Linked DNA regions of Homo sapiens: region 2 is linked to region 1. Evidence: fine-mapped expression QTL. Tissue or cell type: whole blood. Region 1 holds a variant in brackets; the other region holds the start of a gene. All regions are shown on one strand. Distances are between the middles of the regions.

Evidence for each region. PIP is the estimated chance that this variant, and not a neighbour inherited with it, causes the effect.
Region 2: it holds the start of ZCWPW1, and the variant in region 1 is fine-mapped to the expression of ZCWPW1 in whole blood (TOPMed, PIP above 0.99).

What each region holds. Positions count from the first base shown.
Region 1 is chr7:100,707,694-100,715,693 of GRCh38, reverse strand. No RefSeq gene overlaps it. Among named protein-coding and RNA genes, the nearest start is that of POP7, 5.6 kb to the right of the region's middle. The variant G/A (reference allele first, on the strand shown) is at 4,146.
Region 2 is chr7:100,424,413-100,434,381 of GRCh38, reverse strand. It overlaps ZCWPW1 (zinc finger CW-type and PWWP domain containing 1), which reads left to right and starts at 5,679. Exons shown (of 18, transcript NM_001386010.1): 1 at 5,679-5,814; 2 at 9,246-9,352. It overlaps MEPCE (methylphosphate capping enzyme), which reads right to left and starts at 4,551. Exons shown (of 4, transcript NM_019606.6): 1 at 2,693-4,551; 2 at 1,245-1,463; 3 at 993-1,119; 4 at 264-880. The coding sequence starts at 4,363. The coding sequence ends at 828. RefSeq lists enhancers at 3,652-3,731, 4,602-4,741, 5,762-5,991 and silencers at 3,862-4,331, 6,152-6,201.

The DNA.
Region 1 (8,000 bases):
AGGAGATGGTTTGTGCCTTCCTGCCCTTGGCTCATCCTGGATTACCCTCCCACACCATCTCCTCGTTTTCTTTAAAGCCCAAATCTGTGCATCGCCTCCTCCATGAAGCCTTTCTTGATCTCCCAGCAGGAAATCGTCTCCTTCCCTGGCACTGCCGTCATTTATGTACATGTCTTAGGCATCTCACTGGCAGGACCGCCATGGACAGCCGTCAAAGATGAGCACTGCCCAACTCCCAGGGGCATCCATAGAGACTCTGAAGGGAATGGTACCGTCTGGAGTCACGTAGTGCAGGTGCCCTAGTCATCGAAGAGAGCGAAGGGCTGCGTATGGAAGTTCTGATGCATTTTTCTGTCTACCAAGCGTCCAGCATGTCCCTTTTCTGTGGTAACCACCCAAGTGTGGATTGCATTATGTGGTCCCTCCACTACATGCTCAGAGAAGAACCCAACCTAGAGGGGGCACTGAGCCATCCCCCGGTCAACCCAGCTCCCTGGGATCCTGGGGCGTGTGAAGCTTCCATGCACTTCCTGAGCAGGCAGCCACTGAGGCAGGGTTTGAAAAGGGCCAGTTGTGACAGGAGGATGGCGGGTGTGGAGGCAGGCTCTGCTCCACGGATTCCTCCTGGCAGTGGATTCAGATTGGAAATCCAAGCAGAAGCAAATTTACAGCCCCCCGAGCTGTCCCAGACCCCCAGGCAGCACGGAGCCCCAGCTGCCTGGAGTCGGACTTGGGAAGGGGGGCCTCCTGGCTTCTCTTTCCCTCCTCATTTCCAAGCAGTGGCTTCTCAGCTCAGCTCGAGTTCAGCCAGAGGCCCAGAAGACCTTCTGTGCTGGGAGGGGAGGTGGCTGGGGACCTTGTTGGGTGGCCTTTGGGGAACTGTGAAGGAAGCAAGAATGCTGGAGGGCCAGGCACGGTAGCTCACGCCTGGAATCCCAGCACTTTAGGAGGCTAAGGAGGGAGGATCCCTTGAGCCCAGGAGTTTGAGACCAGTCTGGGCAACATAGGGAGACCCTGTCTCTACAGAAAATTTGTTAGGCATGCTGGCACATGCCTGTAGTCCCAGCTACTCGGGAGGCTGAGGTTGGAGGATTGCTTGAGCCCAGGAGTTGGAAGCTGCAGTTAGCTATGATCGCACCACTGCACTCCAGCCTGGGCGAAAGAACAACACCCTTTCTTAAAAAAAAAAAAAGATGCTGAAGAAGGGATTCCTGCTGGAGAACCAAAGGAAAATCCTTTGCCAAAGTCCTCAAAGGAAAATCCTTTACCGCACCTGGCCTACCAAAGTTTTATGAAGCCTATTCCTGACTGATCCTTTGTTCTCTAAGTAAGGTGATCAAGGAGTTAGTTATCAAACTGATGAGGGGCCGGGTGAGGTGGCTCACACCTATAATTTCAGCACTTTGGAAAGCTAAGGTGATCATTTGAGGCCAGGAGTTCAAGACCAGCCGGGGCAACACAGTGAGACCCTGGCTCTATAAAAAATAAAGAAGTTATTTTTTATAGAGTTATATTTTTTATATAAAAAATAAAGAAGTTAGCCAGGCATGGCGGCACATGCCTGGTGTCACAGCTACTTGGGAGGCTGAGGAAGGATGATCATTTGAACCTAGGAGGTCGAGGTTGCAGTGAGCTATGATCATGCCACTGCACTCGAGCCTGGGGAACTGAGCAAGACCCATCTCTAAATAAGTAAAAATAAAACTGATGAGATACCTCAAGAAGTTATTTTATTGCCCGTTCCACTAACTAATAAATATCTGATGAATGAATGGGTCAGTGGATACATGGATGATGCAGAGGAGAATGGCTTGCTGTCTCCTCTATAACAAGCCTCTGCTCCCTTAAGAAAAGGCAACCGTCTTGTCACTTGAAGAATGCAAACAGAGGGTGGACTTTCGCCTTCACAGGACCTGCTAGATTCCTTCCAACTCAGTCTATTAGTCTTGTTTGCTATTAGACAAATATACTTCCCTGAAAAGGGAAAAATTATTTGCTGGTTGATGAACTAAGACACGAGCAGAAGAGCTCACTTAGGCCGGGCACGGTGGCTCACGCCTGTAATCCCAGCACTTTGGGGGCTGAGACGGGCGGATCACGAGGTCAGGAGTTCAAGACCAGCCTGGCCAATATGGTGAAACCCCATCTCTGCTAAAAATACAAAAATTAGCTGGGCATGGTGGCGCACACCTATAGTCCCAGCTACTCAGGAGGCTGAGGCAGAAGAATCACTTGAACTCGAGAGGCGGAGGTTGCGGTGAGCCAAGATTGTGCCACTGGACTCCAGCCTGGGCGACAGAGCCAGACTCTGTCTCAAAAAAAAAAAAAAAGCAACTTTTATGATGAACTTTTGCTCATTACAAAAACAATACGTGACCAAAATTAGAAAACAGCGCTAAACTCAAACACATAAACTGAAAAACACCCATAATGTCATTAGGGTCTTGGGACCTTAAGTGGCCATTTTCACAGGCTTCCTTCTGGTAGGATGACCTTTGCCTCATCCCAAATCTCTGTGCAATTGGACATCTGTTTCCTAAGGAACTACAATTGACACGTTCTCGTCCAACCTCTCTAGTGGTTTGAGGGTTTGTGAAACACCATTTTTCCCTCAACTCCTGACCAAGCACCAGAAACTCACCTGGGACAAAGTGCTGGGCTTCTCTAGCAGGATCATCAGCCTGATCAAACCACTTAATATTTCAAGGTCCCGTCCCCTTCCCTGCTATGCGAGCCACAACTGAGTCTGGCTCAGTTGTTAGTTTCTACTAATAACTCAGACTTGAGAATTAAACGCACACAAAATTGCCTTCCTTCACTTCTCCCCATTCCTATTAAGAAGCCTAAAACCATTTCTTAGCAAAATGGCTTCATACTAAACAATACTAGCTCTTGGCCGGGCGCAGTGGCTCACGCCTGTAATCTCAGAACTTTGGGAGGCTGAGGCAGGCGGATCACCTGAGGTCACGAGTTCGAGACCAGCCTGGCAAACACGGAGAAACCCTGCCTCTACTAAAAATACAAAAAGTAGCCGGGCTTGGTGGAACGTGCCTGTAATCCCAGCTACTCAGGAGGCTGAGGCAGGAGAATCAGTTGAATCCAGGAGGCGGAGGTTGCAGTGAGCTGAGATCACGCCATTGCATTCCAGCCTGGGCAACAAGAGCACAACTCCGTCTCAAAACAAACAGATAAACAAACAAAGAAAACAATAGTAGCTCTTTTTTTTTTTTTTTTGCCTGTAGTCCTAACTACCTGGGAGGCTGAGGCAGGATTGCTTGAGCCTAGAAGTTTGAGGTTGCAGTGAGCTATGATTGTACCATTGCACTCCAGCCTAGGCTACAGAGTGAGACCCTGTCTCTAAAATAAATAAATAAATAAATAAAATGTAAAAAGGAGGGCAGGGCATTGCATTTGCACACACCTTCTGCCTCCATCTCCTCACCCCTCTCCCGTTTTTCAAGCTTTTTTCTTTTTGAGACTGAGTCTCCCTCTGTCACCCAGGCTGGAGTGCAATGGCACAATCTTGGTGCACTGCAACCTCCACCTCCCGGGTTCAAGCAGTTCTCCTGCCTCAGCCTCCTGAGTAGCTGGGATTACAGGCGCCTGCCACCACGCCCAGCTAATTTTGTATTTTCAGTAGAGACGGGGTTTCACCATGTTGGCCAGGCTGGTCTTGAACTCCTAACCTCAGGTGATCTGCCTGCCTGGGCCTCCCAAAGTGCTGGGATTACAAAGAGACGTGGCTCACTGTTTCTGGCCTCCCAAGCTTTGATGGAAGTCACTTTGGAGAGCCAGTAGAGGGAGGAGAACAGAGGCTGGAGCTAGCCTCCCTACGGTCGGGCCTGCAGGCAGGGTTCCCTGCCCCACCTGCCCTGCATGGACTCTAGTAGATGCAGGAGCCTGGTTCACGCCCCCCCACACACAAAAGAGTGAGCCCCAGGCCCCACTCTTCCTTCAGTGGCAATGTGGAGGTCTGTTTCTGCAGAACTGCCACTGAGGGAAGCCCCACTGGCAAGCAGTGAGAAAACATGGAGTAGAAACAACAAACAAATAGGCTGCAGGAGGGAACTGCCAAAACAAACCAGATGGGAAAGGCTGCCTGCCACCACCTCTGCTGGGCTCAGGCCCGGAGCACATACGTGCAG[G/A]GAGACACAGCTCCATCCAGCTTCCTGCCGGCTCCCCGCTCGGCTACTGGGGGGCTCCCGGGCAAGGAAGCCTTGCAGTCAGGCTGATGGAAAGGATGTGGCCTGATAGAAATGTCCGCAGCCAGCCAGGTACGGTGGCTCACGCCTGTTATCCCAGCACTTTGGGAGGCCGTAGGCGGGCAGATCACGAGGTCAGGAGATCGAGACCATCCTGGCCAACATGGTGAAACCCCGTCTTTACTAAAAATACAAAAATTAGCTGGGTGTGGTGGTGCGCACCTGTAATCCCAGCTACTCAGCTACTTGGGAGGCTGAGGCAGGAGAATCGCTTGAACCAGGGAGTCGGAGGTTGCAGTGAGCGAAGATCACGCCACTGCACTCCAGCCTGGCGATAGAGACTCTGTCTCAAAAAAAAAAAAAAAAAAAAGAAATGTCTGCAGCCTTGTCTCCCAGTACCTCTTGCTTTCTAGCCACCTCGAGTCCCTCCAGTCCCAGAACGTAGCTGCCTATTCATTAATCCCCTCCCTGCCCACTGTTTTTTGAGACAGGTTCTTGCTGTTTCACAAGCCCTCAGTCACGGCTTACTGCAGCCTCAACCTCTTGGGCTCAAGCAATCCTCCCACCTCAGCCTCCTGAGTAGCTGGACCACAGGTGCACACCGCCAAGCCCAGTTAATTTTTAAATTTTTGATAGAGACAAAGTCTTACTCTATTGCCCAGGCTGGTCTCAAACTCCTGAGCTCTAGCAATTTTCTCTCTTCGGCCTTCCAAAGTGCTGGGATTACAGGCATGGCCACCATTCCCAGCCAAATCCACCCATCTCCCCGCCCCACTGTGATCTCTCTGCCAAATATGCCATCTCCCTTCTTTTCTGCCTGGCAAACTCCTATACATCCTTCAACACCCAGATCAAAGGTGAGTGAAACCATTTTGGGTCCCACCAGGAAGTTATTAGCCCTTTCCATCTCCACATTTCCTTATCATTGCTACTCTTATGTCTCACACATCTTACTCATTCACAAAAAATTATGTGTCCACCTTCCCAATTAGATGGCGAGCTCCTTGAACATAGGGACCATTTCATACGCAGATGCCAGAGGAAGGGATTTTGATGAATTAGAAGACTGATCTTCAGACCTCCAAACCAAACTACCTTCCTTGAATTAGAGTGAAATTCTGTTCCTAACCTGTAAATCAGAGGCTCTTAAACTCTTATGACCTCAAACGGTAAAAAACACAATGTACATCCTATTATAGTACATATATATATATATATATATATACACACATGCCTAACTGAAAAATTTGCTGGCCAGGCCTAGTGGCTCACACCTGTAATCCCGGCATTTTGGGAGGCTGAGGTGGGTGGATCACCTGAGGTCAGGAGTTTGAAATCAGCCTGGACAACATGGCGAAACCCCATCTCTACTAAAAATACAAAAATTAGCCAGGCGTGGTGGCACACGCCTATAATTCCAGCTACTCAGGAGGCTGAGACAGGAGAATCGCTTGAACCTGGGAGGCAGAGGTTGCAGTGAGCCAAGATTGTGCTACTGAACTCCAGCCTAGGAGATAGAGACTCTGCCTCAAAAAAAACAAAAACATCTGCAATAAAAACACCACCATTTAAGTTGCACTTTTTTTAAAACTTGGGTTCTTTTTTCTTTTTCTTTTCTTTTTTTAGACAAGGTCTTGCTCTGTCGCCCAGGCTGGAGTGCACTGGCGTGATCTCAGCTCACTGCAACCTCCCCCTCCTGGGCTCAGGTCATCCTCCCACCTCAGCCTCCCAAGTAGCTGGGACCACAGTTTTGTGCCACCATGCCCAGATAACTTTTTATATTTTTTGTAGAGATGGGATTTCGCCATGTTGCCTAGGCTGGTCTCGAACTCCTGCGCTCAAGAGACTGACCTGCCTCGGCCTCCCAAAGTGCTGGGATTATAGGCGTGAGCCACCACACCCAGCCTTATTTTTTTTGTTGTTGTTTTTGTTTTTTGAGACGGACTCGCTCTGTCGCCCAGGCTGGAGTGCAGTGGCACAATCTCGGCTCTCTGCAACCTCCGCCTCCCTGGTTCAAGCGATTCTCCTGCCTCAGCCTCTAGAGTAGCTGGAACTACAGGCATGTGCCACCACGCCTGGCTAATTTTTTGTATTTTTAGTAGAGACAGGGTTTCACCATGTTAGCCAGGATGGTCTTGATCTCTGGACCTCGTGATCTGCCCGCCTCAGCCTCCCAAAGTGCTGGGATTACAGGCGTGAGCCACCGCGCCTGGCTTTTTCTTTTTTTAAGAAGCTGTGACCCACAAATGGGTCACAACCCGCTTTGATAAACATTGCTTTAGTTGACTTTAGTTTGATAAATATGAAAAATCAGGTCATCCCACAAATATCCAAACAGAAAGTATTACCTGTGTGCCCAGTAATTATTTGGAGTGAGGGGTTCCTTCGCCACTGGAGCAGCCCAGTGAGAAGGGTCTGAAGGCCGGGCGCAGTGGCTCATGCCTGTAATCCCAGCACTTTGGGTGGCCAAGGCAGGCAGAACGCTTCAGGTCAGAAGTTTGAGACCAGCCTGGCTGACATGGTGAAACCCCTTCTCTACTAAAAATACAAAAAATTGCAGGGCATGGTGATGGATGCCTATAGTCCCGGCTACTCAGGAGGCTGAGGCAGAAGAATCCCTTGAACCCAGGAGGCAGAGGTTGCAGTGAGCTGAGATCGCACCACTGCACTCCAGCCTGGATGACAGAGTGAAGCTGTCTCAAAAAAAAAAAAAAAAAAAAAAAAGGGTCTGAAGGGCTCTGCACCTGAAAGCCCGGGTATCATCTAGGTAGGCCCTGCAGGTCCAGGAATTAAATGAAGCCACTTGTCAGTCCCTACCATGGAGCCTGACACTAAGAAGGTCCTGAAGTCTTAGTTTGCTTCCTTTTTTTTTTTTTTTTTTTTTTTGAGATACGGTCTTGCTGTGTCAGCAAGGCTGGAGGAGTGTAGTGCGGTGATCACAGCTCACTGCAGCCTTGAACTCCTGGGCTCAAGCGATCCTCCTGCCTCAGCTAACGAGGTAGCTGGGATTATAGGTGCAAACCACTACACCCATCTAGTTTTCAAAAATTTTTTGCATTTGGGAGGCCAAGGCGGGCAGATCACTTGAGGTCAGGAGTTCGAGAACAGCCTGGCCAACATGGTGTTTCCACTAAAAAAATACAAAAATAATTAGCTGGGCGTGGTGGCACTCACCTGTAATTCCAGCTACTGGGGAGGATGAAGCAGGAGAATCACTTGAACCCAGGAGCCGAACGTTGCAGTGAGCCAAGATGGCACCACTGTACTCCAGCCTGGGTGACAGAGCAAGACTTCATCTCAGAAAAAAAAAAAAAGTGGTTTTTTTGCATAGACTAGGTCTCAGTATGTCATCTAGATTGGAGTGCAGGTGGCATGATCATAACTCACTGCACCTTCAAACTCCCAGGCTCAAGCACTCTTTCCGCCTCAGCCTCCGCCAGTAGCTCAGACTACAGGCTGGAGCCACTGCACCCAACTAGAAGACGAAAATCTTTAAAACAAACATTGGGGCTGGGCACGGTGGCTCACGCCTGTAATCCTAGCACTTTGGGAGGCCGAGATGGGTGGATCACAAGGTCAGGAGATCGAGAACATCCCTGCTAACACGCTGAAACCCTGTCTCTACTAAAAATACAAAAAAATTAGCCAGGGTGTGGTGGCAGGCACCTGTAGTCCCAGCTACTCAGGAGGCTGAGGCAGGAGAATGGCGTGAACTCAGGAGGTGGAGCTTGCAGTGAGCCAAGATTGCACCACTGCACTCCAGCCTGGGTGACAGAGTGAGACTCTGTCTCAAAAAAC
Region 2 (9,969 bases), 280 kb after region 1:
AACCAAAAAGTTAGCCTTCTGCCCAAAACGTCTACGGGGTTTTTCTGGGGAGGGAAGGCAGACTCCAAGTTCCACACCAAAATTTGCATTACACACCTTTTCCTGACTAGGCTTCTGTGTACTTGCGTGTGGACTTGACTAGTGTTCAACAATCAGCTCAACCACTGAAAAACGTGTCTTCCTTGAGATGGAAGATAAACAGCACAGGTTCTGGTGGGAGGCACCACCCATCCCCCACCAGCTAGACAGTACCGAGACAGGTGTGGGGGCCACTGCCCTAGACATCAAGTTTATTGTGCTGTTCTCACATTGAAAACCCAACCCCCTCTCCCACTGGGGGAGGGCAAAGGGAAGGATTTTCACAGTACCTGCGTGCCTCCCTGCCAGTCTTCCCCGTCTAACCCTCAGTCCCTCTATCCATGGTCCACTGAAATGCAGCTAGGGACAAGAGCTAGGTACAATGGCCGAGGAGAAATGGGAATCTCTCTCCTTGGGAGAATAGGAGGAAAGGGCTAGAGAATTTGATATCCTCCCACCTCCCATGCCCTAAGAGAACAGAGGTCAGCAAACAGTCCATGCCATCCAGCCTGGGAGGCTGGGGGAGAGGAAGATGATGGTGACTCCAGCACAGCCAGCCTTGCTGCGCAGGTGCCAGAGGCATAGGGAGGAGGCTGAGGCAGCGACGGAAGAAAAGCTTTCTTTGCAGATCCAAGAAAGGAAACTATTTTTGGAGTCAGAAAGGAAAGACCTTGGGACACTTTCCTCTTCCCCCAGGTCCTTATGAGCAGCGAGGGCAGCCTCTTCACACTTTCTGTTTAGGGGGCCACTTAGTGGCTGGGGGATCGGGCCTTGTGGAACAGGTACACAGGACGCTGGAAGCCTGAGGGGAGAGAGAGTGATCAGAAGGGGTTGGCAGCACCTCAAGAATCCCCATGGGGGTCTGCACTCTTTCAGCCAGGACCAGCCTCCCTGACAAAATAAACCAGCCTTACCTTTAGAGGTGTTGTGGGGTGTGGCCACAAGCTCATAGCTGGAGAAGCCCACGTCTGGGGATGTCAGGTAGGAACTGAACTGCTCTGGCTTCAATTGGATTCGGTAGTAGTTCTTGTAGATCGTTTCCTAAGGAGAGAGGCAAGGGACCACTTCAGCACGCTGCCGCCTCCCCTGGCCAAGGGCGATGCCCACCTCGGGGCCTTTTCTTGCCTCAACCAAAGGAATGACTATTCCCCCAACACCCAACTCACTGTAAGAGTCTTTCTCTTGCCATACGACGACCAGGGTTGGGGCTCTAGGACCAGGATGCCCCCAGGGCGTAGGTGCCGGTAGATCCGGCGAAACATGCGCTTCAGGCCCTCGTCTCCCCAGTTCAGATGCACCCACTTGGTGAGGCTGAGGCAGAGCACCACATCATACTCAGGTGTTTGGGCCTCCACCAGGTCATCTCGATCCAGCACATAATTACCCTGAGGGCAAGAATCGGCAGTGAGGTCAACTGAGGGAATCAAAGAACCCCTGCTCCCAGGCAACCTGCTCTGAGGCCGATACAGTCCCGCGGCCTCACTTTAGCCCGTGGCCACTTTCTTCTCAGACTAACTCCCAAAAGGTGCCTGCCCTCTTTGAGTTTTGTTTTCTCCTCTACACCTTCCTGCCTCTGCTTCTTCCTACTGGTGGTAAGCCAAAAAAGGTCGACGGAGCCTGAGTAATTTTAAATGGTGCAAATTATCCATGAAGTCTTCCAAAGCTAGGGTCCCAGGACCATATCCTGTGTTTATTCTCACTCACAGACATTAAGTGGAGTGACTGCAGGTTCTGCAAGGGTAACTAACCCAGGTTTCAAAGGCAGACCTGTGGTTCCTTCCCTGCAGTTGGGGCTGGCAAAGTTTCAGGCCTATTCTTTCCTTTCTCTGAGAGAAATGAAGAGCCACATCCTTTAGGAAGCCTTTTCTAGAAGCTCAGCTCATCACAACCCTCTAAAAAGACCATTCTTCAGGCTTAACCCAACACAATGCCAAAGATCCCAGTAGGCAGCCTAACTGGAGTGTTCTCTGGGGAGCTGTGTGCAGTCAGGGGACTCTGCAGGGCACAGGACTCTCTCCTCTCTGCAGAGGAGTTTCTGGTTCTTCCCTCTCCCACTATCTAGGGTCAATGTGGAGAGGATCTACAGCCAAACCACTTGGGTTCCTGACACGCTTCAACAAACTGTCTAGGAAAACAAAAGCCGCTGATAGGAGCAAGGTGGCTATCAAAGGGCAGAAACGCCAGTATTAGTCTGTCGCTACCCTAATCTCCTCCCTAGAAGACATTCCATGTCTGACTCCCATTCTCAGGCTCCTTCAGTAAATCTGAGGACCAAGTTCCACCTGGATCAAATTCCCTAGTGAGCAGCAGCCTTCAAGGGAAGGGAAGGTGGACCAGTGTGGATTATAGGCCAAGCCGGGAGCAGAGCAAAAAGAGAGTCCTCCTCTATCTTGGAGATCCTTGCAGTCATGACAAAGGACTCCAGGGTCAATGCCCCAAGGTAGACACCCCACCTTTCCAGGTTATAAGAGGGGAGAGACGCCCAGCAGAGGCTCTCACTTGCCAACCCAGACCCCTCTTTTGAGGATCTGGGTCATAACCTTCCCTGCTACATTCCCATTTAATCTCATCTTCACACCTGGCCCCTATTCCAAGAGCCTCTGGACCCTCTTACCGTGACGAAGACAACATTGTTGGGGAAGACTGATGTGTCCGCTCCATCCAAGGGCACTTGGGGGGCAGCGATGGGACCCCGGCTGGCAGTCAGCGAGGCTGGGAAGCAGCTCCTCTTTCGAACGGTGGTGGTCCCTTCCTCACCCTCTGCCCCCGGGTCCCCTTCCAAAGTCTGGGGTGGGAGACGCAGCTCCTCGGAAAGGTAGTGTCGGATGTTTTGGCGGGCAGAATGGATGAGCCGGGAATCGATATCCAGGCCCACCATGCGGGACGGGCCCCACTTGCAGGCAATGCTCAGGGTCAGATGGCCCACATTGCAGCCCAGATCTAGGACGTCCCGGCCCCGAAACCACTCAGGCTTCAACACCCGAAGGCGCCCATCCTCACAGGAAGGATTGCGGTACCCATAGTATTTGCAATAATTCCCATACTGGAACTTGCGCTGTTGCTTTTTGAAGCCTGCTGCAGGCAGTGGGTGGTGGTGGTGGTGGCGGCCTCCCCAACTCCCTCGGCCCTTTTCCTTGGAACCCTGGCCTCCACCCCTAGCCCCTGCCTCCGACTTGCTGGAAGTCCTGCGACGTTTGCGATGTCGGGAGGAGGAAGATGGGGGTGCAGAGATAACTGAGGCAGCTGGAGGGGCTGATAGGGAGCCTGAGGGACCCTGCAGAGCAGATGGAAGGGGAGACACCACTTCATCCCTGCAGTTGATGGCTGTGTTGAGTTCATAGGGTTGGGGGGCATCCCGGTTCTGGCCCCTGTGCCGCGGCTGCTGTGAGGCGCCCTCCCCGTGGAGTAAGGGGGTGAGAGGGGCTGTGGGCGGCACGGGGTGACTCTCACTCCCTCCGGCTGCCTGCTGCTGCTGGTGGTGCTGTCCCCGGTGTCTATGCCGCTTCCGACCAGTCTTGAGTGGCGAAGCAAGAACTACATGGCCCTCATCAGTGCAAGTATTGAGACTGAGCGGGTCAGTAATATCTTTGGGGATGAGGATCTCCACCGGATCTCGCCCTTTGGCCGGAAGGGGGGATGACTTAGGGGTCTCCGCGTTGAGAGTGCGGCTCACTTCCTCATCCAGGAGGCTATTCAGGTTCAGGGGATCAAAGATATTGCCCCCCAGGAGGAAGTTGGAGGGTAACACAGAGTCACAGTCCGAATTCACCCGCCTGCGCCTCTTGAAGGCCGGATGTTTGAAGCCTCCCCCGCCTCCCCCTACATTACAGCTATTTCTCCTCTTGCCCCCGCCCCCCCCAGGTGGCCGGTGGGGCTGATAGCCATTGCGGGGTCGAGGAGGAGCAGGGGGACCCAGCTCTGTCCCGCCCCCTCCCCGGCGCTCCTCCCCCACGTCCGGGGGAGCGGCTCGCCCCGGGGGATCCGACAGGCGGGCCTCCCCATGCGACTGCGCCTGGGGGCCGCCCCCTCGGTGCTGCTGCGCCTGGGGACCACTGGAGGAGGTGGCCGCGGCCCCGGGGCTTTCCCGACCGACCGCAGCGGCTGGGGACCCCGCAGATGGCGCGCAACGACCCGGACCACGCTCCGTCCCGCCGCGGAGCTCCCCAGAGGCGGCCTCTTGGTGCGGTGGCACCGTGGGGCCGCCCCCTCCGCCCGACTCATCTTTGAGCGGCGGCGGCGGGGCCGGCACCAGAAACGGCTCCTTCTCCGCCGCCATCTCGATCATTTCCTCCCCTTATTCCGTGCCAGTCGGGGTAACGAGGGGGATCAGGGGGCCTAACCCCCCCTGCCTGGACCCTGCTCCCTTCCCCCCTTTCCCGAGTGCGCGCGCAGCTCTGCTCTTCACGCCTAGTCTCGCGCCCAAGCGCCTCCCCGCCAAGTGCGCCCTACTAGCCCGCGAGACCAAAACAAGAGGCCCGCGAGACCCGAACTACTCGAGGACTCAACCGCGCGTGCGCCGACCCCTTTCTCCTCCGCCACTACCACCCGGCCGCGAGCGCGCACGGTGAGCGCGCGTTCCCTTCGCCCGGGAACCACGCATGCGCACTCCGCCACCACCCTGGTTGCGCGCGCATCAGACTACGAACCAACTTAACGGCTCTGGGAGTTTAAATATAACCCCCCCACAGCCCCCGCAAAAGCCCACCACCCCAAACTGACACCCTACTTCCCTGCGCAGCTATGTCCGGCCCTACTGATCTCCTTTGTCTCTGCCGCGCGATCCCACCCACCGTAGGCGGGGGACGGGAGCTGGTGTGAAAAGGTCTCCTTGACACCCGACCCTTGTTCCTGAGGAATGAGTCTCAGCGGTCTCCGCCCGGCTCTAAATCCAACAACCTCCCCACCCCGCCTCCTTCCTCCCCCCTAGTGGGCAGCGCCTGCGCACACCCTTTTGGGCTTGCGCGGGTAGAGGCAGCACGTGCTGAAACTGGCGCCCCGCCCCCCGTCTTAGGGGTTGGGCCTGTGACGTCGCTTCCTTAAGTTTGGTAAACGCAGCGTGCGTCAGCGCGATCCGGAGGGGCGGGGCTTCCTGACGAAGGGCGGGGCTCATGAATTATTCATGAGCTGTTGGTAGCAAACCTCCCCCCCTCTGCCCACCTTCTTAGAAGCGCTTCCGAGGGAGCGGAGGGGAGACCCTACAAAGCCAAGGAAGGGCGGGAGTGGAACTGGGCTCAGTAAAACGCGATAGGTCATTATAACTCACCCCCCTTGAAAATATTCTCTGCTGAATTGGGGAAAAATAAAAAGCACTAAAACAGCCGATGTTGTCCAACTTCCTCTTCCCCCGAAACGGCTGAGTCGTTCTCTGGCTCCTCTACCTTCCCCCAATCGCAATCACCTGGAGACGCCACACCACGCCTTCCTCTCCGCCTCAACACCCACGACCCGAACCCCAACGCATCCGCCCACTCCCGACGCCCGCTCACTGGCCCGTCAGTTCGCGGGCCTCTCAACACCCACCGCGGCGCCACGCCGACTTATATACCAGCGAGTGTGGGCGGGGACGGGGGTTCGGTCCGCGCTGGGCCCCCCCAGCTTCTGCCAATGAGGAAGAAGCGAGTCTACGCCGTTTTCCCGGGGAGATGCGCCGCCCGGTCTCCCTGCCAGCGGAGTGCTGGGCCGAGGACAGGGCGGCAGGGGTGACAGTGGGGTCCAGGAGAGTCTCAAAATCCTAAGGTGAGGGCGTGAAGGAGACCAGCAGGAAGAGGAGGAATTAGAGAACGGAAAGAGGGAGGAAAAGGCAGTCTGAAACAGAAAAGTTAGTAGATGTGCTTCAGGAACAATCAGGCGCCGCGGCCGCCGCCTAAAAATATGTGACACCAAAGAGGATTCTGGGATTTGTAGTTTTCCCGGGACGTTCGGGTGGAAGATGGCGGATTTACCTCAGCTGCGGAAACGCAGACGCTGTTTCCAGTTGCGCATGCGCCTCGGCCCCGCGAGCGCACCGCCCTCGGGTGGAGCTAGTGCTCAGGGCGTCCTCGTGCCTTTTCTTGGTGGCGGGAAACCTGGGTTGAGGTGTGAGGGGCTTGCGGAGTCGCTGCGGCAGCTGGTTCCGCCCATCGCCTTTAGGTCCTCCTTGCTCCTGAAGGTAGCCAGCTAGTTTCTGGTTGTAGGTGAAGGTGCTAGGCGCTGCCAGTCCTGGCACCCGTTGCCTGAGGAGAAACTTTCTCAGGGCGACAACCAGCCCTTCGCCCTTTTTCCTCAGAATCTGTCGCCCCCAAGAAACAGACAAAAAAAAAATAGCCCAGTCTCCTGGCGGGCACCAACGATATGAGTGAGAATAAGGATCACGGGGCCTCGGCAGGAGTGGGGGTGGAGGGGAGATTCCCTCATGGTGGGAGGAAGGAAGGGAGGGGACGGGGAAGAGAGAGGGGGACGTGTGGCTCAGGGACACCGACTTGAACCGCTATCCCTGAGAGAGAATAAGGGGTGAGGGAAGAGAGGAAAAATGGGAGCGCCCCACAAATGGGAAGAACTTCTCTGCAAAACTTCTTCCCTTTGGATTGCAGGTGGATTTGGAATTGGGGCTTTTTTTTTTTTTTTTTTAAAGACTGTCTCGCTCTGTCGCCCAGGCTGGAGTGCAGTGGCGCAGTCTCGGCTCACTGCAACCCCCACCTCCTGGGTTCAAGCGATTCCCCTGCCTCAGCCTCCCGAGGAGCTGGGACTACAGGCGCCCGCCACTGTGCCCGGCTAATTTTGTATTTTTAGTAGAGACGGGGTTTCTCCATGTTGGCCAGGCTGGTCTCGAACTCCTGACCTTAGGTGATCCGCCCACCTTGGCCTCCCAAAATGCTGGGATTACAGGCACGCGCCACCGTGCTCGGCTGATTTTTTTGTATTTTTAGTAGAGACGGGGTTTCACCGTATTGGCCAGGCTGGTCCCGAACTCCTGACTTAAGGTGATCCACCCGCCTCTTCTTTCTTGTTAAAAGTTTTAAATCGGGCTTGCTGAGCTTGTGCACAAACACGAAGGAAGAAAGCAAGGGAGGGAAGGGGGAGGAAGGAAGGAGGGAGGGAAGGGGGAGGAAGGAAGGAGGGAGGGAAGGGGGAGGAAGGAAGGAGGGAGGGAAGGAGAAGAGAGAGAGGGAGGGAGGAAAGGGAGGAGGGAGGGAGGAGGGGGAGGAAAGGGGAGGGAGGGAAGGAGAAGAGAGAGAGGGAGGGAAGGAGAAGAGAGAGGGAGGGAAGGATAAGAGAGGGAGGGAGGAAAGGGGAGGGAGGGAGGAGGGGGAGGAAACGGGAGGGAGGGAAGGAGAAGAGAGGGAGGGAGGAAAGGGGGAAGGGAGGAGGGGGAGGAAAGGGGAGGGAGGAGGGGGAGGGAGAAGGGAGGGAGGGAGAGGAAGGAAGAAGGAGGGGAAGCAGGGAAGGGAGGAGGGGGAGGGGGGTAGGAAGGAGAGGGGGAGGAAAGGGAAGGAGGAGGGGGAGAAAGGAGAGGGGGAGGAGGGAGGGAAGAGGGAGAGAGAAAGGGAGGAGGGCAAGGAAGGAGGGGGAGGGAGAGAAGGAGGGGGAGGAAGGGATGGAGGGACAAAGGGAGACAGAAGGAGGGAAGAAGGAAGAGAGGGAGGGAAGAGGGAGGAAGGAGTAAAGGAGGGAGAGAGGGAGGGAGAAAAAGTGAGAGGGAGGGAGGAAACTGCTATTAGTTAATTGAGGCATGAAAATAAGCAGGAGTCCACATACTGTTATTAATGCAAAAAGGAAGATCAGACTCTGGCTTAAAAAAGATTTGAAATATACTTTTTTTTTTTTTTTTTTTTGAGACAGAGTCTCACTCATTTTGCCCAGGCTGGAGTGCAGTAGCACGGTCTTGGCTCACTGCAACCTCCACCTCCTGGGTTCAAGTGATTCTCCTGCTTCAGCCTCCCAAGTAGCTGAGATTACAGGCGCCTGCCACCACGCTGGCTAATTTTTGTATTTTAGTAGAGATGGGGCTTCACCATGTTGGTCAGGCTGGTCTTGAACTCCTGACCTTAGGTGATCCACCTGCCTTGGCCTCCCAAAGTGCTGGAATTACAGGCGTGAGCCACTGCGCCCGGCTGAAATATACTCTTTAAATACCGCTTTTTTGAGGCTCAGGGAGTCTGGGTTAGAGGACAATGCTAAAGGGTTTACTTCTCTTAGACCAAGGATTTGAGGAACAATATAAGGAAGGGAATGATTGGATGGTTAGGAAGAGGAAATTTGGGAACACATTCTGAATGGTGTGTGGGGAGAGAGAATTACTGTTTATTTAAAAAAGTATTGGCAATACTGACAAGTTATTTCACTAGGTCAGTTCTCAAACTTTTTGGTTTGAGAACCCTTTTATACCCTTAAAATTTATGGAGGACTCCAAAGAGCTTTTATTTGGTTTGTATCTGTTGATACTAACATTTTAGAAATTAAAATTCAGAAACATTTAAAGTTTGATTAGAAATAACAATAATAAATATGTTAACCTAAACAGGTTTTTATGAAAAATACATTCTCCTAAACAAAAGAAAATTTAGCATGAAGAATGGTGGTGGTTTACATTTTTGCAAATCTCTTTCATGTCTGGCTTAATAGAAAACAACTGGGTTCTCGTCTGTTTCTGCATTCAGTCTGTTGGGATATCTTGTTTTTGTAAAAGTACATGAGAAAATCCAGCTTAATACAGATAGGTAGTTGGAAAAGGGAGAGGGCCCCCTAGGATTTTGGGACTACACTTAGAACTGCTGAGTTAGGTGATTTCATCTCAAAATTTATGTGATGGTTTTTAATGTTCTAAGTGAAATAAAACTCTTTTTTGAGATCCTCATTCACCTTCCCTTGGTTCCCTTTATTATTTCTAAGTTCTTTTTCCCTCCTTATTTACCCTCATTTCATATGTTGAGTGATGAGAATATGGTTTCTGGAACTGTACTGGTTCTTTTACATTCTTATTTAAAGCCTTTGCCCCTCTTATTAAAGCCTTCCCCGCAACCCCACACCCTGCCCCTCTTCATCTAAGGTAAGAAAAGAGAAATTAAAACCTCAAATTTTATTCCTGGGTCTACAGCCCCTAGTCATTTAGTAGCTGTACAGAAGAAAGTTAGTGGTATTTTATATTTTTATTAACTGTCTATATTTTTTTCTCTCTCTCTCTGAACCAGCTTTCAGTATTTGTTATTGTGAAAGAAGTTAATTCACCTGAAACAGAGGAGGGGCAACCTGAGTTATCAGAAAGTGACTTCCTGGCCTTCCCTTCTTTACTGATCAGGTTAGAGCTTTTGTTTGAAAGCAGTGTTATCACATGCACAGATTATACATATTATGTGATACTATACATCACTGTTTATAGATTTATTACATCTTATTAACTCAACAACAGTGAACCACAATTCTATCTAGTTGGTTGGGGCTCCAGAAATATACTTTGGCCTAGGAAGATCTTTACAGGTTTAGATAAGGATTTGAACCTAAATACTGGAAATGTTTGCATTTTTAGGTTGGTCGAAATACTCTCTTTTAATTTTACTTAAAGAATTTCGGCCGGGCACGGTGCGTCATGCCTGTAATCCCAGCACTTTGGGAGGCTGAGGCAGGTGGATCATGAGGTCAGGAGATTGAGACTATCCTGGCCAACATGGTGAAACCCCGTCTCTACTAAAAATACGAAAATTAGCTGGGGGTGGTGGTGCGCTCCTGTAATCCCAGCTACTCGGGAGGCTGAGGCAGGAGAATCGCTTGAACCTGGGAGGCAGAGGTTTCAGTGAGCCAAGATTGCACCACTGCACTCCAGCCTGGTGATAGAGCAAGACTGTGTCTCAAAAAAAATAATAATAATTTAAAATATTTTTTGAAGTGGCAACATTTATAGGTTTTAAAATGCCAAAG